2 separate regions of the Homo sapiens genome follow, and region 1 is linked to region 2. The links come from fine-mapping of genetic effects on gene expression. Tissue or cell type: visceral fat. Region 2 holds a variant in brackets; the other region holds the start of a gene. All regions are shown on one strand. Distances are from middle to middle.

The links. PIP is the estimated chance that this variant, and not a neighbour inherited with it, causes the effect.
Region 1: it holds the start of TGM2, and the variant in region 2 is fine-mapped to the expression of TGM2 in visceral fat (GTEx, PIP above 0.99).

The regions. Positions count from the first base shown.
Region 1 is chr20:38,164,026-38,166,525 of GRCh38, reverse strand. TGM2 (transglutaminase 2) reads left to right here and starts at 1,256. Exons shown (of 13, transcript NM_004613.4): 1 at 1,256-1,337. The coding sequence starts at 1,328. RefSeq lists a silencer at 964-1,403.
Region 2 is chr20:38,056,854-38,059,613 of GRCh38, reverse strand. It overlaps RPRD1B (regulation of nuclear pre-mRNA domain containing 1B), which reads right to left. Exons shown (of 7, transcript NM_021215.4): 4 at 1,970-2,082; 5 at 94-220. Among named protein-coding and RNA genes, the nearest start is that of RPRD1B, 24 kb to the right of the region's middle. The variant AAG/G (reference allele first, on the strand shown) is at 1,204.

The sequences.
Region 1 (2,500 bases), 110 kb before region 2:
CTTCCCGCTCAGGGCTCACAGTGGATCCGGAAGCACAGGAGACCAAGAGACCAGAGATACCAGGATGAGAGATAGGACCCCTGGTTGCCAGGTTCGAGAAGTCCTAGGCTGAGTCCCTGGAAAGTTAGTCTTGCTCCTTTCTGGCACACAGTGGGGCCTCAAGAAAGCTCAGTGGATGGATGGATTGAGGGAGGGAGGGAAGAGAAGGCCGAGGGAGGGATGGATGAAGGGATGAGTGGATGGATAGGTGGGGGGGTAGGTGATGCATGGGTGAGTGGATGGATGGGTAGATGGATGGCTGATTAGATGGATGGCTGATTAGACAGATACAAGGATGGGTGAGATCGGAGGATTATCTGGGTTTTGCTACAGGAAGGGACATGGGTGTGTCTGTTTTTGCAGGTGTGTCTGCATGTCTGTACCTGAGTCCATGCCTGCATGTGTGTCTACCTCTGAGTAGCCACATCTTTGTGTGTCTGTGGGTGCCCTCTCTGATTTTGCGTCCACATCTGACAGTGGCATTGGTGTCTAGGAGGTCTGTGTGTGTGCCAGGTGCCTCTGGACACCTGCTCATCTGTGTCCACAGCTGTGTGTGGCTCGCGGTCAAGGCTACCTGGCTGTGTCAGGCTGTATCTATGTCCTGGTGTGTGTCTGCCATTCGAATCTGAATTTGTATCCATGTCACTGTGTCTGCGTGGCCAGCCGTGTTTGGTGTATCTGTGGGAGTGTATCTGTGTTTGTGTGTGTATCTCCACAGCCCTGTCTTGGTGTGTCTGCGTCTGCTCTCTGTGTATGTATATCTGAGTATGTGTGTGAGTGTGTGCGTGTGTGTGTGTGTGTGTGTGTGTGTGTGTTGGGGGTGGGGAGGTGTTCTTGATCCCAGATCTGACCTAAGAGTCCACATCTGTGTGTCCAGGTGCACCCCGGTTCCGTTGTGTGTTTCTATGAGGGTGCTGCGTGTGTCTGTATCTGAGTGTGTGTGTCCAGGTGTCTGTTCTCCAAGGTCTGAGTCTGTGGGTCCAGGTGTGTCTGTATCCTGGGCTAGTTGTGTGTCCCTGTCCGCTCCCCCAGGGGGCGCCCTCGTCCGGCCGCCGTCCCTCCCTCGGGCTCCGGTCCCCTGGGTGAGCCCCAGCGCTGGCGGCGTGGGCCCGGGACTGGGCAATGGGTGGCCTCCCAGGTCGCCGCCTTCCCGCGGGGCCCCGCCCCCGGCCCGCCCCAAAGCGGGCTATAAGTTAGCGCCGCTCTCCGCCTCGGCAGTGCCAGCCGCCAGTGGTCGCACTTGGAGGGTCTCGCCGCCAGTGGAAGGAGCCACCGCCCCCGCCCGACCATGGCCGAGGGTGAGTATCAGAGTCACCGCAGCCGCCACTCAGGGGCCCCGGGGCATTGGGGGTCAGGACCCGGTGGGAGCTGAATCCCTAAGTCCTGATTTGGAGAGCAACAGGCAGACCGGGCTGGGTGAGGAGGCGTCTCAATGCTGCTTGGAGCCTCAGTTTCCCCATCCACACTGCATAACCATTAACCCTTGCCTCCCTGGATCAGGTGAGGCAATGGAACGCGACGGGGTGTTGTAAACTGTAAAGTACTGTCCTGGCGGACCACTGGCACGTGTCCTCAGTCAGTCAGTGGGGGCTGGCTCTCTGATGTGTGCCTGGAGCTGTGCAGGGGGTGCTGGCCTGGCCTCAGAACACTTAGGTTTGGGTGGTTCTTGCCAGCCAGGACCAGGTGGTGTGCATGCCACGCCGGTGGTGTGCAAGCCAAGCCTGGCTGAGTCCTTGGCTCCAGCGGCCAGAGAGGAGCTTTCGGCATCCTATCCAGGAGCCTTCGGAAATCAGGCTTGTTCTTCCCGCCCTCACGTTCTGCAACCCTAGACCTTGGCCAATTGTTGAGTCTCACCTATAAAATAAGGACAACAGTGTCCTTATTTTATAGGACAAGGTTTATGAGATTTGTTTTCCCCCAAGACCCCCACCCATCTGTCACCCTGACCGTGCCCTGGTCCTCTGCTCCAGCCTTTGGTGCATCTGTGAGGAACGAGAGGAGTGGAACAGAGGCTTAACTAATTTCATACTGGTGCCCCTGACTCCCTCCCCACACACAAGCAGCACTCTCGTAGGTCCCAGCTGGAGGGATTTCTACAATGGAGGATGTCACTGCTGGACCCAGAATCCCAGCTGGCTCTTGGGTCAAGTTCATCTGGGGATGGCTTCTGCACCCATTGCAACCCCCAGGAAGGGGTGTGGGACAGGGACATGGGGCAGGTGGAGCAGGAATGGGTGGCAGGAACTGTGGACCCACCTGACCCTGCTGTGTGATCTCAGCCACCTGCCTCCCTCGGGCCCAGCTCCCAACACACTGTGATGTGTCGCCTCGGTGGCCGCTTGTCCTCAATGCATCTTCTCACCCCCATGCTCAAAAGCAGGGCTCAGTGGGGCTGGGAGATCCTGGAGATGCCAGTTATGATGAGCCTCCAGCCCCATGTCACAGTGGCCACTTCTGACAG
Region 2 (2,760 bases):
TCTATACCTGCAGACGTTAAGTATGGCCTAGGGTTACTGCATTACAGTTATGTCCCTCTCTCCTCACCTTTCACCCAAACTCTACCTTCTCACCTGTTATTTTTTCCAATAGAGAAACATCTTGCACTTCCTGGGGCAGAGAAGCAATTTTCTGTCGGACAGTAGCATCCCCTGATGCGGCATTTTCCAGATCCTGCAAAGCTTTGATTAGTTCCTCAGTCTGTAAGATGAAAACACAAACAACACTACCCATTAAGACATGGGGTTTAAAGAAAATTAGTTGGAGTTAAATGAGGTGGAGGCAAATTCTAAAAACAGTCATTCCTGCCATTTCTTAAAAAAAACTGTTCTTAGCCCCAGAGCTTACATGTAAGTCAATGTCACGGACTCTAAGAAAATCCACAAAATTAGTTTATCTAAGTCCATGGCAGAACATGAATGAAATTCTGAATAATTATTATTATTTTTTAATTCTAAAAGAACATGTTTTTGGCAATTCAAAACAATGGAGTTTGGTTCATGTTGCTTAATTTCAAATGATGTATCATTTCCAGTATAGAATAAAGGTATAAATATCAGATGTTAACAACTGTGTGTTGTGGCCAGGTGTGGTGGCTCGCACCTGTAATCCTAGCACTTTGGGAAGCCAAGGCAGGAGGATCACTTGAGCCCAGGAGTTCGAGACCAGCCTGGACAATATAGCGACACCCTGTCTCTACAAAAAAATTAAAATAAAATAATAAGCCAAGCATGGTGGCATATGTCTATAGTCCCAGCTACTTGGGAGGCTGAGGTAGGAGTATCACTTGAGCCCCAGAGGTTGAGTTTGCAGTGAACTATGATCATGCTACTGCACGCCAGCCTGGGTAACAGAGCAAGATCCTGTCTCAAGAAGGAGAAGGAAAAAATTATATGTTGACTGATCAACCTACTTCAATTCTTTCTTGGGTTTTCTTGACAAAATGGATGTCACTCCCAAAATTAAATGTATCAAACTTATTATAAACCCAGGGGGAAAAAACAAGAAAAGTAAACCAGGGATACATTTTCTGTATATATCAAAAAGGAGTTTCTTAAATTGTCAGAAAACAATGCTAACAGGCCACTCCATAATCACCAAGGAGTAGCTAGCTCTGTAGATGGTAGTTAGATTACCCTGAAAGGTAATAATCTAGGCTGTAGTCTTTAAAGTGTTTAAATCCA[AAG/G]ATATATGACCTAACACTGCTGTCATTTAATCCCTAGTCTAACTCAACACCGTAACATAACACAAACTAGACATGTTTCCTATTTACATAGGCTTTAAGCATGACCATGTGTAATAAAGCTGTTTTAGGCAAAATAAGATGAAGCCCCCCCCGCCCCCGCCTTGAAAAGAGCATGGGCTCTGAAGTCAGACACACCTGGATTTAAATTAAGACACTGGTCAAGTTACTTAAACTGTCACCTTGTGCCCAACTTCTTTCATTTAGATTTTGTAAGCTAACCTGTATAGCCAAATAACACAAACACATGGGTAAAGACTAACTCCTTGTTTCAATATTTAATAGGCTACAGTGCAGCAAATTTGCTATTGACACATAGACTGTCTTTAGATATTAATGAGTTACTTTATAAAACTACCATGCTACTGGAGACAGGCCATGGTAGACGACTTTTGAATATCTTTGTAATATTATCTATCCCTTTCTCCAAAATCTATTTTTAAAGAATATTCTTAATTTCTAGGATTGAAAAAACCAAGTCCAAGTACTTTATAAAACATAAGCCCATCCCAGAGTTATGGCACGCAAAGACATACTGACACCTGCCATCCGGCAAGCTCCTTTGGGCAGGATGATGCACGGGGCCCCTGAGAGGTGCCCTCTGATGATTCCATACCAGTGGTCACTGGCGCCACCTTGTGGCCATAGTCTTCAACTAGAGGTCACTTTAAGCCACTGTTCCCTACTCTCTGGGGGTCAAGACCTACCAAGAGGGGTCCTGCAGAAGGATCCTGAGGAGAGTAGCTGCCAGGGTAGTCGTCATCCTCCTCCTCCTGAATTTGCTGAAAAGTTCGTTTCAGAGATTTCTTCTCTTCTGTTGCTAGACAAAAGAGAAAGTAATAAATTTGAGTCACATATCCTGTAGTGATAAGTCACATGCTATGCACAATGGGCCACATGTAAAAACAGGGCAGAAGGGGCACACATTTTCAGAATGGCTTAATAGTAACCTTTATGCTAGTTATTTTAAATTGACTGTAGTTCCCTACATTACTGAAAAGAGTCAAACAGGTCTTTGTCCGTCATCTCAGATTGATTCTCTGGTAAAATACTACAGAAAACAGGCATCTAAAGCGAAAACTTACCCAACTATCACACTTGAGTAAGAAACTCATGGGACAATACAATGAAGCAAACCAACGTGTGCTAGGGTTTACAGAGAAGATATTGTGTATAAAATGAGATACGTTATGCTTTCCAGGGATCATTTCAGAAAACAGGAGAGAAAATTTTATCAATAAAATTGTGTCAAACACAAATATTCTTTACACTATTCCCCTAAAAATAAAATAAATCTAATTTTACCTTAAAATTAAAATAACCATTACTGAGACATGTGATTGATACTACTGAGAAAAATTACTTAAGTTACCATTTTAAATTTAACCACTTTTGAGGCTGACAGGTTACATTATTTATGATCTATCTGCACCGTATGTTTTTACATTGTTATGATAGATGTGTTAATTCCAAAATCATTCTTTTTGCATCAAATTAG